Regions from separate parts of the Homo sapiens genome. Here region 1 is linked to region 2. Evidence: fine-mapped expression QTL. A gene starts in region 2. The other region holds a variant in brackets. All regions are shown on one strand. Distances are from middle to middle.

What was found. PIP is the estimated chance that this variant, and not a neighbour inherited with it, causes the effect. A credible set is the group of variants that fine-mapping cannot tell apart.
Region 1: its variant is the best candidate, but not a certain one, in a credible set for the expression of APAF1 in whole blood (INTERVAL, PIP 0.65).

Annotation. Positions count from the first base shown.
Region 1 is chr12:98,613,801-98,621,800 of GRCh38, forward strand. It overlaps a transcript of IKBIP not described here. Among named protein-coding and RNA genes, the nearest start is that of SNORA53, 18 kb to the left of the region's middle. The variant G/A (reference allele first, on the strand shown) is at 3,694.
Region 2 is chr12:98,639,436-98,655,641 of GRCh38, forward strand. It overlaps APAF1 (apoptotic peptidase activating factor 1), which reads left to right and starts at 5,855. Exons shown (of 27, transcript NM_181861.2): 1 at 5,855-6,400; 2 at 8,884-9,062; 3 at 9,191-9,380; 4 at 10,052-10,249. The coding sequence starts at 8,925. IKBIP (IKBKB interacting protein) reads right to left here and starts at 5,353. Exons shown (of 3, transcript NM_153687.4): 1 at 5,088-5,353. The coding sequence starts at 5,266. RefSeq lists enhancers at 4,071-4,698, 4,699-5,325, 5,326-5,953, 9,928-11,127 and silencers at 5,530-5,729, 6,050-6,259.

The DNA of each region.
Region 1 (8,000 bases), 30 kb before region 2:
ATCATTTGCAAAAGTCACTGTCTTCAGAACTTTGGCTCTGTCACCTTCTAAGCTTAGAAATCTATCTGTATGTTTGTCGAAGTCACTCTTTAGTTCGGTTAGCGTCTTCTTAACAGAGTTAATTCTTTGTGAATTTTCAGATGCTGTCTTTCGGAGCGTTGCTGTTCGATCAATACTGCTTGAAAGAAGATCACCTATATTTTTTACTGTATTTTTTTCTACTTTCTCTATTTTATTTTCTAGTTCTTGCACAGAATCTGTCAATGATATTACATCAGTTACTAAACCTGAAATCCGTCGTATATCTGTTTTTACACTTGTAATCTTGAGACCAACATCTTTTGCCATGGAAGTTGTACTTTGGTCTACTTTTGTAATGTCTTGAGAAAGCGTCGTCAGACTGTTGTTCAGTATATCCTGTTTTTCAGTTATCCTATTGGACCAAGTTTTTACCTCATTAATTTCTTCCTGTAGACGCTTTAGATGAGCAATTATTTGAAAAGACTTCAATTGTTCCATGATAGCTTCAGATTTCTGCCACTATAAGAAAATATAATATCACAATGATTAAATGTATTAGAAGCTTACCATTTAAAATTCATCTTAAATTTTATATTTCTTTTTAATTTTAATTTTTTTTTTGAGACAGAGGCTTGTTCTGTTACCCAGGATGGAGTGCAGTGGCACGATCTTGGCTCACTGAAACCTCCACCTCCTGGGTTCCAGCGATTTTCCTGACTCAGCCTCCCAAGTAGCTGGGATTACAGGCACCCGCCCCCACCTCAGCTAACTTTTTTTGTATTTTTAGTAGAGACGGGTCTTCACCATGTTGGACAGGCTGGTCTCGATCTCCTGACCTCTGGTTATCTGCCCACCTCGGCCTCCTAAATCCATGCCTGGGATTACAGGCGTGAGCCACCACGCCCTGCCTTATGTTATTTTTTAACTACACTTTACTGTTCTTCTGGAAAGCATATGGTAAAAGACGACTTCAGAAGTAAGAGAATTTAGAACAATGTAAGTGAATTACTAATGAATAAGAAGGAAACATTAAGAAAATTTCATGAAATGTCCCTGGAAATTACATTTTTTACATTATAATATTTTCACAATTGGTCTTCTGTACAGTAATAAAATGAGCTACATGAGACAGTGATGTGGTTTTTCAGTTGCTGGAGAAGGGAAAAGGAAGTTTCCTCCAGTTGAGCTTTGCTAGGTGAGACAAGGCAACATAAGTTCTTTTTTATTTCAGCTTTATTAAGGTATAATTGACAAATTAAAATTGTATATATTTATTGTGTACAATGTAATATTTTGATATACATATCTACGCACATATTGTGAATGATTAAATCAAGCTAATGAACATATCTATCACCTCATGTATTTTTTTTTGTAGTAAGAATATTTAAGATCTACTCTCCTAGAAATTCTCTCTTTTTTTTGGAGATGGAAGTCTCACTCACTCTGTACCCAGGCTGGAATGCAATAGCCCCATCTCTGCTGACTGCAACCTCTACCTCCTGGGTTCAAGTGATTCTCCTGCCTCAGTCTCCAGAGTAGATGGTACCACAGTTGTGTGCCACCACGCCTGGCTGATTGTTGTTTAGTAGTGACAGGGTTTCACCATGTTGACTAGGCTGGTCTGAAACTCCTAATCTCAAGTGATTCGCCCGCCTCGACCTCCCAAAGTGCTAAGATTATAAGGCATGAGCCATCGCGCCCGGCCTCTTAGCAATTTTCAAGTATATATTATTATTATTTACAGTCATCATACTATACAATAGATCTCCAGAACTTATTCATCCTGTTTAACTGAAACTTTGTATTCTTTAATCAACATCTCTCAATTGTCCTACCCTGTCCCCTCCAATCCCTCGTAACCATTCTACTCTGTACTTCTATGAGTCTGACTTTTCTAGATTCCACATATAATTGAGATCATGCAGTATTTGTCTTTCTGTGCCTGGTTCATTCCACTTAGCATAATATCGTTTAGGTTCATCCATGTAGTCACAAATAACAGGATTTCCTTCTTTTTAAAGGGAGAACCGCATTTTGTGTGTGTGCGTGTGTGTTATTTATCATTCATCTGTTGATTGACACTTAGGTTGATTCTACATATCTTGGCTATTGGGAGTAATGCTGCAATGAATATGGGAGTGCAGAAAACTCCTTGACATACTGATTCATTTCTTTTGGATATATATCCAGAAGTGGGATTGCTGGATCATATGATTATTCTTAGTTTTTTTTTTTTTGAGGAACCTCCACACTGTTTTCCATAATGGCTATACTTTCCCACTCACAGTGTACGATGGTTCCCTTTTCTCCACATTCTCACCAACACTTGTTATCTTTTGTCTTTTTGATAATAAATATTCTAACAGGTGTGAGTTGATATCTCATTGTGGTTTTAATTTTTCATTTCCCTGATAATTAGTGATGTTGAGCATTTTTTTCCATATACCTGTTGGCCATTACTATGTCTTCTTTTGAGAAATGTCTATTCATGTCCATAGCCCATTGTTTAATTGGGTTTTTTTTTGCTATTGAGTTGAGTTCCTTATATATTTTGGATATTAAGCCATTCTCAGATTTATGGTTCATGAGTATTTTCTCCCATTCTATAGGTTGTCTCTTCACTCTGTTGACTGTTTCCTTTTCTGTACAGAAGATTTTAGTTTGACACAATCATATTTATCTATTTTTGCTTTTGTTGCTTGTTCTTTTCAGGTTCTATTCAAAAAAATCTTTCCCAAGACTAACGTCAAGAAGCTTTTTCCTCATGTTTTCTTCCAGCGGTTTTCAATTTCTGGTGTTACATTTAAGTCTTTAATTCATTTTGAATTGGTTTTTGTATATGGTTTGATATAAGGGTCCAGTTTCATTCTTCTGCATAGGATATCCAGTTTTCTCAACAGCATTTATTAAAGAGATGTCCTTTCCCTTTTGTGTGTTCTTGGCAACTTGGATGAGAATCATTTGAACATACACTTGTAGAAGTATTTCTGGGCTCTCTGTTCCATTAGTCTATGTTTTTTTTTTAAATGCTAGTATCACGCTGTTTGGATTACTACAGCTTTGTAATATATTTTGAGATCGGGTAGTGTGATGTCTCCAGCTTTGTTCTTTTTGCTCAAGATTGCTTTGGCTATTCGGGGTCTAAGGCAACTGCAAATAAGTTATAGCAAATGCTAGAATGAAGGGACCAATGTCCAAGACTATATGTCTACGCTTTATTGGCCTGTAACTTTTATGAACAGTTTTCTGGCCTATCTAACTATCCATGAGACCTTGAATAATTCAAATTCTCAAGTTCCTAGTATGTTGTTAGGCATGCAAAATATGTGGAACATAAAGATGAGTATAACTCGAGTTGTGGCCTCAACTTAGTTTAGTAGAGAAGACAGATAAGTAAAAGAAAAGAATTTCCAAGGTTCTAAAATTCTGATTCCAAATGCAGCTGTTTTTCAACTTTTGTATGTTTCAATGTCATCCTTCTTCCCCACTATACATTATGAACTGAAAGCTCTTAAATTGTCACCTTGATTTAACTTGGACACATTAACTGATAAACATTTGGAGCCACCCAAGTGTCTGGCAACATCTTGAGTTGTTATTTTTGTTGTTGTTTGTGGTGATGGTCCTGTGTCTGTGCACACACATGTGCGTGCCTATATAGCAGTGTTG[G/A]GGAGTTGAGTATTTTATCGAACTTTAAATATTTGACATTTTATTGCATTGTGCCATCAGTTAATAAAATGAAGAAGGGAAAATTACATAGCGATAAGATGGGTAGATCTCATAAACCACACAAAGTTGGATAAAGTCGTACAATTAAAACAAAGATGGAAATCAGGTAAGACTATTTAGCTTCAATCAGAAGATTAGCCTATGGACTGTGTGCTCAATTATGAAGAAAAATAAATTAAGAAACAAATGTAAAATGGCTAGAAATACATTGCTAATGCGTATGCCCAAAGACAGATATACAGTAATTACTCTGGAAAAAGAATCCCATTTATAATGTGTAAGTCAATCATTTGACTTTTGCATATTTAACTTTCAGCTTGTTTTCTAGGAAAGTACTATGTTGTAAAGTAGGAAATTATAACTTTCTATTAATAACCAAAACTAGTTTGATTTGACAGCATATACTGTACTACAGTATGTCCTAGTATGATCAAGAACAGTCTCTGCTTTTAGGGAGTTTGTAGTTTAGTTTGGGACACAGAATGTCGATAAATGTGTTACTTAAAATTCAGAAAAGAAGAAATAAAAAAGCTTGAGTCCAGGAGTTTGACGCTGTAGTGTGCTATGATTGTGCCTATGAATACCAACTGTGCTCCAGCCTGGGCACATAGCAAGACCCCCATCTCTAAAACAAAAAAATTGAAATTAAAATTTATAAAAACAAATAGACTGTAAAACATTTTTACAAAATTAAATATGCAGTTTAATCTAAAGATATCTTTTTTTCTAAAATAATTGTGTATTTCTTCAATGTTTTCTTATCAATTATCTTTCTTAAAAGAAAAAATTGAGGCCAGGCGCGGTGGCTCACGCCTGTAATCCCAGCACTTTGGGAGGCCGAGGTGGGCGGATCACAAGGTCAAGAGATCGAGACCATCCTGGCTAATGCAGTGAAACCCTGTCTCTACTAAAAATACAAAAAATTAGCCGGGCGTAGTGGTGGGCGCCTGTAGTCCCAGCTACTCAGGAGGCTGAAGTAGGAGAATGGCGTGAACCCGGGAGGCGGAGCTTGCAGTGAGCCGAGATTGTGCCACTGCACTCCAGCCTGGGCGACAGAGCCAGACTCTGTCTCAAAAAAAAAAAAAAAAATTTGAGATGGGGGTCTCACTATGCTGCCCAGGCTGGTCTTGAACTCCTGGCTCAAGTGATCCTCCCAAAGTGCTGGGATTACAGGCGTGAGCCACCACACCTAGCTTGAATTATCTTTCTTAAATTGTATTTGGATTACTTGGCTAATGCCAACCTTTTGAGATTATTTTGGTTATCATACATTTAGTTTTACTTAACACAAATAAAAATGAATTATGCTCAGAATATTATTTTGAGGGCAGCTTTAAAAAGAAGCATCCATATAGTTGCAAAATAATTATAATGAAGTACAGAAATGGGACAGTAGGACAAAATAATTCTAAGTAGCAACCCCCCCACTTCGCCCCATCATAAATGTTTAATTTCAAAATACACTTGAGGATTTTTCTCCTCAATTGCTTTATGCTTAAATTAATTATTGGTGGATAAGGTGGCCCAAAATGTGTTTTTTGGTAGAGAAGTGAGTTTGCGAAATGTTCCTGTGGGTATGACATTAAGCGGTAGCCACAAATAGGAAGGAAACCAAGAAGTGATTGCAAAATCACATTTTATTTTTAAGGAGGAAGTTTTGCAACATAGTGTATTTGATGAAACAATCTCCCAAGGGAGAAAGGACTAGACGGCTACTTTAATCTATTTCATTACCAGGTTATCATTTATTAATGTATCTACTCTGGTAAAAGTAGCTTAATAGCAATTAAACAATTAAGATGTTGATGAATGAGCTTAGCTTATTCTTAGAAGGATCAGATTATTAGGAAGAAGCTGTTAGTAAACCTCTTTGTTTCACTTGGTTGTTTATAATAGCAATGTATCATGAACTTCTATTGATCTTTATGAAAATATAAGCTCAATACAGTGTGGTAATAGTCTACAGATTGTTGTATTAAGTTATTTTAAAAATTACTTCGGGTTTGGTTAACCTATTTGCCTAGGATGGATAGAAGAGTTAGAGTCTATCAGTAGCTGAAAACAGCACATCAGTGAAGGCTGGGGATGGTGGCTCACGCCCGTAATCCCAGCACTTTGTGAGGCGGGGTGGATGGGTCACTTGAGCTCAGGAGTTCAAGACCAGCCTGGGCAACATGGTGAAACTCCATCTCTACAAAAATTACAAAAATAGCCGGGCTGAGCTGGGAGGATGGCTTGATCCTGGGAGGCAGAGGTTGCAGTGAGCTGAGATCATGCCACTGCACTCCAGTCTGGGCGACAGAACCAGACCCTTTCTCAGAAAAAAAAAAAAAAAAAAAAAAGTACATCAGTGATTTGATTATTTATTTATTTATTTATTTATGAGATGGAGTCTCACTCTATTGCCCAGGCTGGAGTGCAGTGGTGCAATCTCTGCTCACTGCAACCTCTGCCGCCTGAGTTCAAGTGATTCTCCGGCCTCAGCCTCCCAAGTAGCTGGGATTACAGGCATGCACCACCACACCTGGCTAAGTTTTCTATTTTTTTTTTTTTTTTTTTTAGTAGAGACGGGGTTTCACCATGTTGCGAACTCCTGACCTCAAGTAATCCGCCCACCTCAGACTCCCAAAGTGCTGGGATTACAGGCATGAGCCACTGCCCCCGGCCAGAATATTTATTAAATTCCTATCATATATTCAAGGTATGAGGTTAGATGCTGTCCTGTAATGTTAAACATTGCCTGGATCTACAAGCACAGCAACATGGTTCAAGAATATGATTTCTAGGTCCAATCTGCTTTCTAAAAACTTGCTAAAGGATTTTTTTTTTTTGAGACGGAGTCTTGCTCTGTCGCCCAGGCTGGAGTGTAGTGGCGCCATCTCAGCTCACTGCAACCCCTGCCTCCTGGTTTCAAGAGATTCTCCTGCCTCAGCCTCCCAAGTAGCTGGGATTACAGACGCTCACCACCACGCTCACCTAATTTTGTATTTTTAGTAGAGACACAGGTTTCACCATGTTGGCCAGGATGGTCTCGATCTCCTGACCTCGTGATCCACCCACCTCAGCCTCCCAAAGCGCTGAAATTACAGGCGTGGGCCACTGCACCCAGCTAGGTTCTTTGAATTCTATTAAAGGACCTGGAAATTTTATTGATCTGTATAATTTAAAACCATTTAGATCAGGCGCAGTGGCTCACACCTGTTATCCCAGCACTTTGGGAGGCCAAGGACGGAGGATCCGTTGAGGTCAGGAGTTTGAGACCAGCCTGGGCAACATAGAGAGACCCTCACCTCTACTTTTTTTTATATTAAAAAAAGGGTAAATAAGTAAATAAAACCACTTAAAGCCAGAAGGCATCTTAGGGATTATTGATATAATTCTCTCCTTTTACTATTTAAAACTAAGCCCTAGTGGCCGTGCGTGGTGGCTCACACCTGTAATCCCAGCACTTTGGGAGGCCGAGGTGGGTGGATCACCTGAGGTCAGGAGTTCGAGACCAGCCTAGCCAACCTGGTGAAACCCCATCTCTACTAAAAATACAAAAAATGAGCCGGGTGTAGTGACAGGCACCTGTAATCCCAGGTACTTGGGAGGCTGAGGCAGGAGAATTGCTTAAACCCAGGAGACGGAGGTTGTAGTGAACCAAGATTGTGCCACTGCACTCCAGCCTGGGCGACACAGCAAGACTTTGTCTCAAAAAACAAAACAAAACAAAAAAAACCTAAGCCCTAAAATAAAGTGCCCAGAATATGCAGTGGCAAAACCTATTAATAGATTAGAGGAGTACAGCCTAGGACTCTTCAGCACTGCTTTTTCCTCTTCTCCAACATTTATTCATTTATTGATTCCTTCTCATGCTCAAGGGCCAAACAATTTTAGAGCACAGCTACAGCTTTTGAGGGACTGAGTCTGGTTTAATGGCAACATGGTAGAGAACACATTTGACTCAATTATTGCTTTTTGAGTTATCGAGATAGTTCTACTAACAGCAGATTTGTTGTGATTTTTCTCCCCTAGTTGAACAGTAGCAGGCTCCATGGTGTAGTGAGATGTCCTTGGCCTCTGGAATTGAACAGACCTAGGTCTACAGTGTGACTGCAAGATTCCCAATGTTCCTAAGTCTCCATTTCCTTATTTGTAAAATGGGTCTAATAGCTAGTAAAGGTGTAGTAAGGATTAGTGATAATGACTGGCACAAGGTAGGTAATCAATATATAGAGCTGTTATGATGACGATAATGAAGGCTG
Region 2 (16,206 bases):
TCTTCTCACTATCATATCATATGGCCTTGTGGAAGAGTGAGATACAGGAGAAAGGGACCCAGGCTACTTTTAGCGTAGGCCTTACAAAAAGAATCTTCCTGACTCCTTCATGAGCCATTGCAGTCTATAGAGACCTCATACAGATCTATCTAGGGTCCTGTGATAATGAATGGTTTACATTTTCCTACAGTGCATGGTGGTAATTAATGGTGTGTGTTGCCTCTGAATAGCTCCTTTAGGAACGTTAAATGGTGGCAGACAGCTGACTGAGGACTTACAAATTCAGGATTTCCTCTGGCTCTATTTCAGCTTAATAATGAAAAAGAGGCAAATAACCAAAGGAAGCTGTTACGGACCTTCTGCAAGGAAAGAAGTTCCAGGGCCACTATTAGGGTCAGTACCCATTTAGCCCTATGTTTCATACCATCTATAGCCTCAGTTTTAGCACAATACCTAGTTTTCAAGAAAACCTTGACCATATTCCATTTTTAAGAAGCAGGACATTTAAATTATACCCTTGTCTTTTAGATAAAACTCTACTAACACAAAGAAAAAAGCTGGAAATGGAGTTAGCCAAGGTTTTACAGTATGATTTATAGAGAAAATTATATTGGATAATTAAAACAAAAACCAGAGTTATACAACTTGCTTAAAGAGCTTTTGACTTTTTGTACATAATTATAACAGATACTATAAAAAACTTTTATAAAGGCAATTTAGGCCAGGCACGGTGGCTCACGCCTGTAATCCTAGCACTTTGGGAGGCTGAGGTGGACAGATCACCTGAGGTTGGGAGTTTGACACCAGCTTGACCAATGGAGAAACCCTGTCTCTACTAAAAATACAAAATTAGCTGGGCGTGGTGGCGCACACCTGTAATCCCAGCTACTCGGGAGGCTGAGGCAGGAGAATTGCTTGAACCTGGGAGGTGGAGGTGGAGGTTGCGGTGAGCTGAGATTGCGCCACTGCACTCCAGCCTGGGCAACAAGAGCAAAACTCCATCTCTCAAAACAAAACAAAACAAAACAAAACAAAACAAAACAAAAAAGCAATTAAAAAATCTATTGAAGTTTCCATAAGAAACAAAATTTTCACAATGGAAATTCCAGCTGATTAAATTTCTATGTAATTAAATAAGCATGAGTGACAGGTTTTGTGTCTTGTTTAGTAATTTAACAACTTTTTAACTTTCTGAAAGTAGAATCACCTCAATTCTTACCTGAAAAATTTCTATAAGAGTTTAGAAAAGAGCTATGCAAACTGACACTCAAGCCATATGGGTTTGGGCAACTTATCTCCAGTGTTTATTGTCAAGATGACATAGGATATATCAGGCCTTTTTTTTTTTGCAGGGTCTCACTTTGTCACCCAGGCTGAGTGCTGTGGTGCAATCAAAGCTCACTGAAACCTCAAATTCCGGGGCTCAAGCAATCCTCCAACCTCAACCCCCCAAGTAGCTGGGACTACAGGCATGCGCCACCATGCCTGGCTAATTTTTTGTATTTTTTGTAGAGACAGGGTTTTACCATGTTGCCCAGGCTGGTCTTGAACTCCTGAGCTCAAGATCCGCCCAACTCGGCCTCCCAAAGTGCTGGGATTACAGGTGGGAGCCACCACACCTGGCCTATCAGGCCTTTATTTAGCAGAGAGAAGATATTAAAGCAACACACTTTTAAGTTTCTTATGTATTATTTCTCTTTTCTTTCCACATAGGAAATGGTCTGAAGACAATGATATAGTGTGATTCCTTGAAATCCTTCTTGGGCAGTGGAAGGGTTCAGATTTTTTCCCTCCAACTTAATCAGATGAAGAGTGAGAGTAAGCAGTATTTAAGAGTACACAGACAGGCACACATATGCACTTGTATTTTAACCACCAGGGCCGTGTCAGTACGGAAAGCATTTAATAAAGATTTGATAGACCGACTTTTAGATGCTGAATTACGTGTTTTAGTGGTAAAGATCTCAATGGCTTTGTCAAAATTCTAGTGAGCTTTTAAGTATTTTAAGATGCCAAATACTTGCTTTTTATCTGGAAAATGTTTACAAATGTCTTATGGGGATATATTTTTATTTCAAAATTTACTATGAATAAATATTTTGCAATAAACAGCAACCAAAGTACATTTGCTTCAATTTTTGCAGCAAAAGATTTCACAAGAGCAACTAAGAGGCAACTATTTAAATAATAATTATAGAATCTGCCCATAAAAAACACATATAATACATACATTTTAGAGAGACAGGGTCTTGCTCTGTCTCTCAGGCTGGAGCACAGTGGTATAATCATGGGTTACTGCAGCTTTGACTTCCCAGACTCAAGCTATCTTCTCACCTCAGCCTCCCAAGTACCTGGGACTACAGCGAATGCCACCACACTTGGCTAATATTTAAAAATTTTTCGTAGACACGGTCTCACTATGTTTCCCAGGCTGGTTTCAAACTCCTGACCTCAAGCAATTCTCTCGCCTCAGTTTCCCAAAGTGTTGGGATTATAGGCATGAACCACTGGGTCTGGCCCCCAAAATTATTTTTGATATAGCATTGTGTTATCATTTTGCAAACATAGTTCAAATTAAATCTTCCTAATGAATGTAATACATTCATTACAATGTAATACAGGAATCACTAACAGCAAATTCCTGATGTGAGGGAAATTTTATTCCCATAAAGTTTAGTTTTCTATTAAAGCTTATCCCAGGATAGTAACTAACTTTCCCAAAACACAAAAGGTTACTTATTTATTTAGGCGAAGTCTCGCTCTGTTATCCAGGCTGGAGTGCAGTAGCAGATCTTGGCTCACTGCAACCTCCACCTCCCAGGTTCAAGTGATTCTCCTGCCTCAACCTCTGAGTAGCTGGGATTACACCAGGCCCAGCTAATTTTTGTGTTTTTGGTAGAGATAGGGTTTCACCATGTTGGACAGGCTGGTCTCAAATTCCTGACCTCAAGTGATTCGCCTGCCTCGGCCTCCCAAAGTGCTAGGATTACAGGCGCAAGCCACTGCACCTGGCCCAAAAAGGTTTTTTTTTCAATTTACTTAAAGGAGGTCAAGCATTTTAAGGCATAAGAGCCGTTTATTTAAAACAGTAAATTCAGTACATTTATTCCTTTCAGATCAAAATTAACATATTCCGTATTAGTAAAATAAATAATGCTATCTGCTTTTTTTTTTTTTTTTTTTGAGAAGGAGTTTTGCTCCATCCTGCAGGCTGGAGTGCAGTGGCACGATTTCGGCTCACTGCAACCTCCGCCTCTTGGGTTCAAGTGATTTTCCTGCCTCAGCCTCCTGAGTAGCTGGGATTACAGGAGCATGCCACCATGCCTGGCTTTTTTGTATTTTTAGTAGACACAGGGTTTTGCTATGTTGGCCAGGCTGGTCTCAAACTCCTGACCTCAGGTGATCCACCCACCTTGGCCTCCCAAAGTGCTGGGAGTACAGGCATGAGCCACTGCCGGCAGGCTGACAATTCTATTGTTTTTGAAGAGGGCGTTTAATCACTTTATTGTGACAAAATTTTGTTTGTTTGTTTTTTGAGATGGAGTCTCGCTCTGTTGCCCAGGCTGGAGTGCAATGGCACGATCCCAGCTCACTGCAACCTCCACCTCCCCATTTCGAGTGATTCTCCTGCCTCAGCCTCCTGAATAGCTGGGATTGCAGGTTTGTGCCACCAAGCCTGGCTAATTTTTGTATTTTTTGTAGAGACAGGGTTTCACCATGTTGGCCAGCCTGGTCTTGAACTCCTGACCTCATGATCTGCCCACCTCGGCCTCCCAAAGTGCTGGGATTACAGGTGTGAGCCACCGCGCCCAGCCGTAACAAATCTTTTAACTCTGAAAAATACACTATTTGGGATGAGTCACCAGTAAAGTATAATTCCATATGTAGTAGCATAAAAAATGTCTAGATGTCCAGGGTCTCTTCTAAAATTCTATCACTCTGGAAGATTAACAACAGTCTTACTAAATAACTTTACACATGAATGAAAAATGGAGAAAAATTCTATTAAGATGCCAATCTTATTAAAATGAAATGGGCTATTCCCTCCTCCCGCCAGAAAAAAAAAGGCTGGGAAAATAAAATTCACAAGTTGGTTTTTTTCTTTTTTCTTTTTTTACGAGTTGGTTTTAAGGTTATTTCTAATATTCATTTTTCCTAATGACACCAATATATCGCCATTTACCTGATTTTAAAACTGCAACTGGTTAGTTTTAAGTGAACACAAGTGCTATGTTTTTGTAGCTTTACCATATTCAATCTGTAACTTACTTAATAAAAGACCTTAAATTCATAATGCATGCACGGTGATCAAAATATGAGCACTCCTCCAAGCTCTGCTACTATAACGTTTGCTCCTTTGGGAGCATAATGATATGGTTTTCTTTTTTTTTTTTTTTTGAGACGGAGTCTCGCTCGGTCGCCCAGGCTGGAGTGCAGTGATGCGATCTTGGCTCATAGCAACCTCCGCCTCCCGGGTTCAAGCGATTCTCCTGCCTCAGCCTCCGGAGGAACTGGGACTACAGGCGCCCGCCACCACGCCCGGCTGATTATTCGTATTTTTGGTAGAGATGGGGTTTCACCATGTTGGCCAGGCTAGTCTCGAACTCCTGACCTCAAGTGATCCACCTGCCTCGGTCTCCAAACATAATGATCTGTTTTAAGGTTGCAAGTATTTCCATTAGGTATTTATGGGGTGAGTAGGGTGGGGCAGATGTGTCCCGGAATGGGGCACAGCGGACAGGAAGTAACGGTTTATAACAACGTGAACGCTTCTGACGTGTAGCGGGAGCTTCAGAAAGCGTGGCCGAATCTGCAGCTCTTAACAAATGGCTCGTTCCCAAACCTTAGCCTCAACTCCTTCTGAGCGATAGGGGCATGCTACCAGCACGGGGGGAAATGAGATACAAGAAACGCCCGAAAGGGAAAAACAAGGCTGGGCTGTTTCCTTCCTTTGGGGTCAAGACAGAGGCACAGAAGGCCCAGGTCTGGGAGGTTGGATCACCTCCGGCTGGATGTTGAGCCGGGTGGGAGCCCAAACAGCAGGGGGCCCACAGGAGGCCGGCCCAGGCAGCCTCGCGTCCACTTACCAGGCCAGGCCCAGGCACGTCCCCAGCGACAGCAGGCTCAGGCACGTTCGGGGGTCTGCCCAGCCCCCGCCTCCGCTGCTCCGGGCCACGGGGGTCTTCCCGCCCTCGCTCCGCTTCCCGGGCTCCGCAGCAGGGGCTCCCTTGGGCCCCGACTTCTTCCGGCTCTTCACCTCAGACATGTCTGGAGACCCTAGGACGACAAGCCCAGGGCAGCTTCTTCACCAGGGGGAGCAGGACGTGGCCGCCTTGGCGTTCGTGGGAACCCTGGGCGGTGACCGCGCCCCCTCACAGACTTGGCACCGCCCAGAGCCCAGCCCCTTCCCTCTCCCCGGCATCCTCGTTGCTTCACTGAGTCTTTCAGCTGCCAGCTCCATAGTTCCCCTAGGAGAGGTGGGCGGCGACCTCAACCCACAGCGCCTTCCACTGCGATATTGCTCCAAATCCGAGGAAATTCAAACTCCCGGGCGCGCGCAGGCCGACGGGACCCGAGGAGGAGGGGCAGGACGAAGGGGTCGCGCGCGCCACGTCGGGCGCGCCGCCGCTGCCCGAGTCCGGCATTGGTGGGAACGCGGCGCGTCCCTGAGGCTTAGCCACGCCCCGTCCGCGGGGTAGGCGGGCACTTCTACGCGCGCGGGCATGAGCCGTGGCAGGAGTGCGCGGCGGCAGCGGTGGCCGCCCCTTGGGGCTTGGGGTGTGTTTATTTGCATAAGCGGGCGCGCGCCGTCCGGGCTGGGTGGATCCGGCGGGATTTGACTGCTCCGCTGTCCAGAGGCGGAGAAGAAGAGGTAGCGAGTGGACGTGACTGCTCTATCCCGGGCAAAAGGGATAGAACCAGAGGTGGGGAGTCTGGGCAGTCGGCGACCCGCGAAGACTTGAGGTGCCGCAGCGGCATCCGGAGTAGCGCCGGGCTCCCTCCGGGGTGCAGCCGCCGTCGGGGGAAGGGCGCCACAGGCCGGGAAGACCTCCTCCCTTTGTGTCCAGTAGTGGGGTCCACCGGAGGGCGGCCCGTGGGCCGGGCCTCACCGCGGCGCTCCGGGACTGTGGGGTCAGGCTGCGTTGGGTGGACGCCCACCTCGCCAACCTTCGGAGGTCCCTGGGGGTCTTCGTGCGCCCCGGGGCTGCAGAGATCCAGGGGAGGCGCCTGTGAGGCCCGGACCTGCCCCGGGGCGAAGGGTATGTGGCGAGACAGAGCCCTGCACCCCTAATTCCCGGTGGAAAACTCCTGTTGCCGTTTCCCTCCACCGGCCTGGAGTCTCCCAGTCTTGTCCCGGCAGTGCCGCCCTCCCCACTAAGACCTAGGCGCAAAGGCTTGGGTAAGTTGACCTCCTCGCTTTTCTCCCCGAGCCAGGTTCTTTGGAGGCTTGGTAGCTGATTTCAGGGACTGAGAATTTGAGGACATGGAATATTTGATAACCATCCTGCTCCTGTACCAGGAAGAGAAATTCTGTAATGAGGAAGTAGTAAACTTGGGGTTTTCGTGGATAAACGTGCGCTGTTTTCTGTTTTACGTCCATGAAGAGTTTTGGCTTTCCATTTTGTTGTGGGTTACAAAAGGTTTTGAGACTTAGTTCAGATAAGTTGTGCAGTTTTAAAACGTATTTAAGATTTGCATATTTTAGTTTAACAGGACTAGGTGAAATTGGAAATTAGTTTCAGAAAACCAGAGTGTCTTATTTGCTTAGCTATTGGACATCACCTAAAAAATTCATTCATTCTTGTTTTTTCACATCGAATTTCATTACTATAAATTAAGGAACATTTTATGTTTAAGAGGACAAAAACGTTATTAACATTTTAAAAAATGAGAGTTTTGATTCGAATCAATAACTTTTTATCAGTTTTGTGCCCCTGCTGGGCATTTTGTAAGCCTTGACAAGCATAGGCAAATGCCCTACGTCCGTCCCTGTTTTTCCAAGTGCTACATTTGGTGACTTCAAAAACAGTCATTGAAGCTTGATAATTATTGCCCCCTTCTGTGAGCTCCAAGTTACTTGTGCTCTGTTTTTGCACTTCGGGCATTCACATTCCCACTCTCTCTCTCTTTTTCTTCTTTGAGTAGACTGTGAATTATTTCAGGCAAATGACTCAATCTTTTCTGTAGTCTTGGTGTCTGACATATAGGGAGGGGCACAAATGTGTATTGAATGAATGAATTGATAAACCCGTTTAGACTCTTTCACTCTATACATTGTGTAAAGTTCTGTTAATGTTTTGAAAACTTGCAGATATTGTGAACTGGGTTTTATGCCCATGGAAAAATTTGCATTATATTTGAAATAAAGTTGCTAGAAACGTCAAGTATTTTACTATAAAGGCTGTTATTCTTTCCTCATGTCCTCCTGGTCTGAGAAATCACATCAGAAAGTGTTTCCTGTTGCTTTGTGGGAAATGTGTTTAGCAAGGAGGACCTAGAGCTGACATCCTCCTTGAACGAGAACTAATACTCAATAGTAACAATGCTCTATTCACTCTTATGTTTGATAAGGAAAACAAGAAGTCTCTTAATATTAGGACTTCAATGTAATCACTATTTTATACAATCTTAATTAAAAAAGGAAGTATTTTATTGTAAGAAATGATAATGTGTGCTAAAAAAAATTGACAGTAGAGGCCGGGCATGGTGGGGCTCACAAGTGTAATCCCAGCACTTTCGGAGGCTGTGGCGGGTGGATCACCTGAGGTCAGGAATTCAAGACCAGCCTGGTCAACATGGTGAAACCCCGTCTGTACTAAAAAAAAAAAAAAAATAAGACAAGGTGGGGGAGAAATCCCAAATTTTGCTACTCAGAAGTAACTCAAACATTTCGATGAATAAACTTCTAAACGTCTATATATATTCATATGATACCAACACTTGTTTTTTTTTTTGAGACAGAGTCTCAGTCTGTCGCCCAGGCTGGAGTACAGTAGAGTGGTCTCGGCTCACTGCAACCTCTGCCGCCCTGGTTCAAGCAGTTCTCTTGCTTCAGCCTCCCGAGCAGCTGGGATTACAGGCACCTGCCACTGCATCTGGCTAATTTTGTATTTTTAGTAGAGACAGGGTTTCACCATCTTGGCCAGGCTGGTCTTGAATTCCTGACCTCGTGATCCACCCGCCTCGGCCTCCCAAAGTGCTGGGATTACAGGCATGAGCCACTGCGCCCGGCCCCCACGTTATGTGTTGTATGTGGGATCATGTTTCTGTTTTTTTTTTTTTTTTTTTTCAGCAACAGTATTATGAACATCTTTCCATGTCAATACATGGAGATATGTGTCATAATTTTGAATGGCTGCATAATATTCCATTTTATATACATACCCTAATTTTTAAAATCTATATTCAGAATGATGGACATTTAGGTTGCGTTCATCACTGAAACATCCTCCATTAATTCTTTTTTCTTTTTATTTTTTACTCTAGCCTCCCAATGTGCTGGGATTATAGGCTTGAGCTACCACACCTGATTGGAAACTCATTAATTCTCCTTGTGGATATTTTTACATATGTATTTGAATGTCTCCTTGAAGTAAATCCTTAGAAATGGGATTTCTGGGTTAGAGAGAAAGCTTATTTTAAACAATTCCATATCTTACTGCTTTCCAGAAAAATTGCATTCATTTTCTAGTTTCCCCAATTAGTGCATAAGAATGGCCATTTTCTCATACCTTTCCAAGCACTGGGTTTTGTCCATTTAAAAATTTTTGCCAAGGAAAAAAAATCAGTTTTGTTCTTTTTACGTTTCTTGTTTATTAGTGAGATTATGTATCTTTTCATATTTTTATTGGCCTGACAAATATTTTGGTGTTTTGGCTGTAGCTCATGGTTGACAGCTCAGAGAGAGAAAGATCTGAGGGAAGATGGATGCAAAAGCTCGAAATTGTTTGCTTCAACATAGAGAAGCTCTGGAAAAGGACATCAAGACATCCTACATCATGGATCACATGATTAGTGATGGATTTTTAACAATATCAGAAGAGGAAAAAGTAAGAAATGAGGTAAAGCTCTCTGAAGCAGTCCACACTTCCTTAAAAATTTTTAGAATTTCAGAACTTGTACTGGTCTCCACTACTTTATGTTGCATACATATTCATTGTTGTATACTAAACTACTTAATTTTTTTTAGCCCACTCAACAGCAAAGAGCAGCTATGCTGATTAAAATGATACTTAAAAAAGATAATGATTCCTACGTATCATTCTACAATGCTCTACTACATGAAGGATATAAAGATCTTGCTGCCCTTCTCCATGATGGCATTCCTGTTGTCTCTTCTTCCAGTGGTAAAGATTCAGTTAGTGGAATAACTTCGTATGGTTTGTATCCATTATACCTTCTATCACTTTGCTATCAAAATTGCTTTGGGTTTGTCTTATTGTAGATGTAATCTTTTGAAGAGAGTGTGACCAGTTCACTGAAAACTGCATGTTAAAAAAATTGTAGTGATGTTTTCAATTTAAATATTTTTTATTTGCATCCACATTAACTCTCAACTTTTCTTCTTGCCCAGTGAACTGTACTGCTGAGATAATAATATGTCTACCCTAATTTTTAGAGACAATAAGACAATTTATAGGCCCTTGTTTATTTTCCAGTTCTATGTGTTTATAGAGTTTATAGGAAAAAATAAGAATCTTTAGAAATATATGTTCTTGAAAGGTATTCCATAAATGTTCTTCCTTTTACACTTGCCTTCCCAGTCTTCAATATGAGAGGGAATGAAAAGTCAGGAAATAATTGGGTGAGTAAAGCAGATATAGATAGAAACTTCCATTTTCTTTAGTCATCTTGAAGGATATATGTTTGTCTTTGCTCTCTGTTGTCTGAGAAATCAGAAAATTGAAGTTAATATGCTAGCCACATTTTCTTAACTTCTCTTGGAAATTTTCAGGCTAAGCCTCAGCTTTGCTCTTTGTTTTTTATGGTATTACTTCAGTAATTATTCCAAAGTTCTATTCATTCATGCTTGTTTTGTTTTGGATTTTAGTAAGGACAGTCCTGTGTGAAGGTGGAGTACCACAGAGGCCAGTTGTTTTTGTCACAAGGAAGAAGCTGGTGAATGCAATTCAGCAGAAGCTCTCCAAATTGAAAGGTGAACCAGGATGGGTCACCATACATGGAATGGCAGGCTGTGGGAAGTCTGTATTAGCTGCAGAAGCTGTTAGAGATCATTCCCTTTTAGAAGGTAAGTGTCTTAGTCCATTTCATAGTCTAGTAAGGTAGATAGACATGTAAAAATATTATGATATATCAATACGTGATAAATTGAATGGTAGAAACAAGTATAAGGTACAGAGTTAGAACAAAGGAAGGATATGTTAACTCTCTGAAGGGAGGGGATGGATAGGACAAGCTTCCTGAATGAGATGACATCTTAGCAGGAGTTTGGAGAAAGAATAAAAGTTAGCTAGGCAGTGAAGGTAGGGATGGGAGACTAGGGAAGGTGGGAAAGGTAGTGGGTGGTTACTGGGGTGGGGAAGGGCATACTGGGTAGAAGAGGGTTTAAGAAATGTTGGCAGGTATACCACTGACCTTAGCGATCCTGGTAGGTTCTCAGGGTATTCATCAGGAATAGTTGTATAGCTCCATCAGTTCTAGGCTGCCCCCATTCATCAGTGTGTTCTCATTCATCAGTGTGTTCTCTCTGTATGACACTTCTAGGGGAATTCAAAGACAGTTCCCAACTTCTAGTAGTTAATAATTTTTTTTTTAGTAGGCCAGGCACGGTGGCTCATGCTTGTAATCCCAGCTGAGGCGTGGATCACCTGAGGTCAGGAGTTCAAGACCAGCCTGGGCAACATGGTGAAATCCCGTCTCTACCAAAAATACAAAAAAAATCAGCTGGGTGTGGTGGTGAGCACCTGTAATCCCAGCTACTCGGGAGGCTGAGGCAGGAGAATCACTTGAACCTAGGAGGCGGAGGTTGCAGTGAGCTGAGATCGCACCACTGCACTCCAGCCTGGTCAACAAGAGCAAGACTCCATCTCAAAAAAAAGTTTTTTGTTTTTTTTTTTTTGATATGTATGTATAACATGATCTACGGTTAAGACAGTTTAGACAGAATGATTGGAATAAGTAGTAAGCCTCTAAGAGACTTAGAAATATGGAGGCTAGGGTATATCTATGTGTACACATGGCCTCAGTTTAATTTCATAGCCTTTGTAAGTGGTATAGACTATACTCTTGTCAGAAGTATGCCTGATTCCTAACCCTTGGTTTTTCCCCTCTATCATTACAGAGAAGTTTCCTGAGACTTAGCTCCTTTCAAGTCTCAGAGCCAAGGATTTTTTTAAGCCCCTACTGCAAAGTTGATCACTAAGGATATTTCAGGATAAATTTAGCTTAAGTTCCTTTAGTGTGAAGGAATGAGTTTTCCTTTCAATATTATGAACTTTCTTTGTGTATTTATAATATTCCAATTTATAGGTTTAAAAGAACACTCCCTCTCCCCATTTAAATTGCTCTACATTATTGTGATGAATTTTCAATTCTAGGGATTAAAATTGACTAACAATCTATGGAATTAAATATTCAGGAGTCATATTGTATAAATTGTTATCTTGGAACAGGTTTTAACTACTTTGTTTTGAGAAAATCCTAGAGATACTGGCAACTGTACATGTGAGCTTAATTCATATTCCTCGTACTTTTGTGGGATCTCAAGTTCAGAGGACTGAGTTATTCATATTCCTTAGTTCACGGCTTATTATAGTAGATCTGTACTAGGCTGAGCTTTTCACTGTATTTATTTATTTCCATTTCAAAATTTCCTATTCTTATTTCCTTTCCCCTCTCCATGGACAATCCTAATGTATTTAATGTATGTTCTTTGTAAATGTCTGTGTAAAGTGTGTACTCTTGTAAAATATGTATGTTGTTGGTATGCAGGTATTTTAAATTTGCATAGATGTTATGGTATTATTCTGTTTTTTATCTCCCATGACACAATGTTTTTAAGATTTATCCTTGTTGCTATGTATACATGTTATTTGTTACACCTGATTGCCACCAACCCATTTTACTGCTCATTACCCTAAGTAAATGGATATGTAGATTGTATCCAACTCTCTGCTGCTGCAGCAAAGCTGGGTTGAACTTCTATGTGAGTAAGAATTTCTTGGGTATTTGTAGCTAGGAGCAAAATTAGTAATTATTTATTTATTTTTGTTTTTTTTTAAAGAGACAGAGTGTCACCCTGTTGCCCAGGCTGAGTGCAGTGGCCATATCATAGCTCACTGCAGCCTCAAACTTTTAGGCTCAAGTGATCCTCCCACCTTAGCCTCCTGAGGAGCTGGGTGCACACGCCACCATGCCTGGCTAATTATTTATTTATGAAACAGGGTCTTGCTTTGTCACCCAGGCTGGAGTGCAGTGGCACAATCTTGGCTCCCTGCAACCTCTGCCTTCTGGGCTCAAGTGATCTTCCCACCTCAGCCTCCGGAGTAGCTGGGACCACAGGTGCATGCTGACACACCCAGCTAATTTTTGTATTTTTTGTAGAGTTGGGGTTTTGTCATGTTACCGAGGTTGGTCTCGAACTCCTGAGCTCAAGCAATTCACCCACCTTGGCCTCCCAAAGTGCTGGAATTGCAGGTGTAAGCCACCATGCTTGGTGTGTTTTTAAACATTTTTTTGTAGAGACAGGTTTTTGCTATCTTGTCCAGGCTGGTCTCAAACTCCTGGGCTCAAGTGATGCTCCCGCCTTGGCCTCCCAAAGTGCTGGGGTTACAGATGAAAGTCACCATGTCCAGCCAAAATTACTAAATGATAGGATATACAAATACCAAATTTGATTCCCCTCCAGTCTGTACATTTCCCCCAGATGAGTATGGGGACTCCGATAATTCTACTTGTGCAGTGACGGTTGGTATGATCCAGCTTTGTAATTTTTGCCAGGCAAACTTCTATAAAGTTGTGTCTTTTACTTTGCATTTCTCTGGTAACTCAAGTTTGAACATTTCTTCATAAGCTTGTTGTTAGCCTTTTGGGTTTCTTTTTTTATGGATTTTGTTTATATTATTTGTCTATTTTCCATTGGGGTTTCCAATTTTTTTTTCTTTTTGCTTTTTAGGAGTTTCTTATATATTCTAGACATTAAACTTTGTTGGTTTTAGACTTTTATTTTATTTTATTTTATTTTTTTTGAGACGGAGTTTCGCTCTTGTTGCCCAGGCTGGAGTGCCATGGCGCGATCTTGGCTCACCACAATCTCTGCTTCCCAGGTTCAAGCGATTGTCCTGCCTCAGCCTTCTGAGTAGCTGGGATTACAGGCACCCACCACCACGCCTGGCTAATTTTGTATTTTTAGTAGAGACGGGGTTTCTCCATGTTGGTCAGGCTGGTCTCGAACTCCCGACCTCAGGTGATCCCCCTGCCTCGCCTCCCAAAGTGCTGGTATTACAGGCGTGAGCCACTGTGCTCAGCTGGTTTTAGACTTTTAAATACCTTATTTTAATTTGCCATCTGATTAATTTTTTTCCTGGGTGTTCTCAGTAGACGAGAACTCTGATGTAGTCAAACTAATCAGTTTTTTTTTTTGTCTTCTAACTTGTGTTTCCTGAGTTTTGTTCAAGTAGTCCTATTACAGTCTTATTATTCATATTTAGTTCTTTATTCTCTGGAGTCTGCCTTTGTATGTCCACTAATTCAAGAATAGGTGCTTTCCCAAAGATAAATTTTAATCTCTGGAGTTCACTTCCATTCTCAAATACAGGAACATTGGATTTTTGACATTTAATTGTATTGCAAAACCTTTTCTTTTAAAAGTACAGATAATATAAGAGATCTAAATTTGATTAAAATTGTGGTTCCTATGGAAATGTTTTCTTTGGGTGGTGATTGGCATAAATTAAAGAATATTAAGTTGTTAACTTTTAGCTGGGTGTGGTGGCTCGTGCCTGTAATCCCAGCACTCTGGGAGGCCGAGGTGGACAGATCATTTGAGGTCAGGAGTTTGAGACCAGCCTGGCCAACATGGTGAAACCCCGTCTCTACTAAAAATACAAAAATTTGCTGGGCGTGGTGGCGCATGCCTGTAATCCCAGCTACCCAGGTGGCTGAGGCATAAGAATCGCTTGAACATGGGAGGCAGAGGTTGCAGCGAGCCAAGATTGCACCACTGCTCTCCATCCTGGGTGACAGAGTGAGATGCCGTCTCAAAAAAAAAAAAAAAAAAAAAAAAAAAAAAAAAAAATATATATATATATATATATATATATATATATAGTTTTTAACTATTTATGTCTATACAGTTTTAAGTAACCCAGTTGTCTTTTGAAATTTCAATGCTTTAATTTTTTCTTATTTGTAGGGAAATAGTAAAGAATTGACGTATCTTTAAATACAGTAGTGACATTTTACATTACTGTATTCGTATGTTGGTTTTTAATCATGGATGCTTTCTTCATAGGCTGTGTTCCTATTTGTTTCTGTCCTTTCCAAGATTTCTTTGTGTTATTAGATTATTAATTGCTACCAGGATAAGCCTCCTGTGAAAGTAGTGTGGAGTTTTCCCTGAATAAAGGCAACTTTTCTCTGAATTAGTTTCTCTGAGTGAATTGTAAATACAGCCTCCTCATGCAAAGCTAAATTGCTCCCTCTTGTGCCCATAGTCAAGATGTTTAGATTCTTTCTGAAATGTGGAATTAATGGTTCAGTTTTTAACTAAATGTTATATTGTGATGGTTAGAGATTTACATATCAGATGGTCATTTGGTCTGTTTGCCTTTTTAAAGCTGGTAGTGTTTTCTCTTTTCTTGCATGTATTTAAATGCCCTAAATTTTTAGTTATACATTTAGGGAAAAAGGCCTTTGACCCTAGGTAATAGGTACATAAATTAAAATATGAAAGAATTTACTAGGTAGCCATATCAGGATGCTTTCTTTACCTTTAATCTTGGGATGATTTTTACAAATTTTATTTTATTTTATTTTATTTTGAGACAGAGCCCCATTCTGATGCCCAGGCTGGGGTGCAATGATCTCAGCTCACTGCAACCTCTGCCTCTTGACAGTCCCCCTGCCTCAGCCTCCCAAGTAGCTGGGACTACAGGTGTGTGCCACCACACCCGGCTAATTTTTGTATTTTTAGTAGAGATGGGGTTTCACCATGTTGGCCAGGTTGGTTTCGAACACCTGACCCAAGTGATCCCCTCGCCTCGGCCTCCCAAAGTTCTGGGATTACAGGTGTGAGCTGCTGTGCCTGGCCGATTTTTACAAATTTTAGGTAGTACAAATTTAAAAAAATGGAAACTTAAGGCAACAGATAGTTTATTTGTCTGTTTTTGTTTGTTTAAATATTTTTAAAGTAGTATTTTCTTTTTTTTTTTTTTTTTTTAATTTATTTTTTTATTGATAATTCTTGGGTGTTTCTCACAGAGGGGGATTTGGCAGGGTCATGGGACAATAGTGGAGGGAAGGTCAGCAGATAAACAAGTGAACAAAGGTCTCTGGTTTTCCTAGGCAGAGGACCCTGCGGCCTTCCGCAGTGTTTGTGTCCCTGATTACTTGAGATCAGGGATTGGTGATGACTCTTAACGAGCATGCTGCCTTCAAGCATCTGTTTAACAAAGCACATCTTGCACCGCCCTTAATCCATTTAACCCTGAGTGGACACAGCACATGTTTCAGAGAGCACAGGGTTGGGGGTAAGGTCACAGATCAACAGGATCCCAAGGCAGAAGAATTTTTCTTAGTGCAGAACAAAATGAAAAGTCTCCCATGTCTACTTCTTTCTACACAGACACGGCAACCATCCGATTTCTCAATCTTTTCCCCACCTTTCCCGCCTTTCTATTCCATAAAGCCGCCATTGTCATCCTGGCCCGTTCTCAATGAGCTGTTGGGCACACCTCCCAGACGGGGTGGTGGCCGGGCAGAGGGGCTCCTCACTTCCCAGTAGGGGCGGCCGGGCAGAGGCGCCCCTCACCTCCCGGACGGGGCGGCCGGCCGGGCAGGGGGCTGACCCCCCCACCTCCCTCCCGGACGGGGCGGCTGGCCGGGCAGAGGGGCTCCTCACTTCCCAGTAGGGGCGGCCGTAGTATTTTCATTTAAAAAGAAAAAGAAATAAAAGTTCTCCTTACTTGTTCCTTTTTGCTTTCTCCTAAATTCTTAATCTTTTTATTTTTATTTTTGAGACAGAGT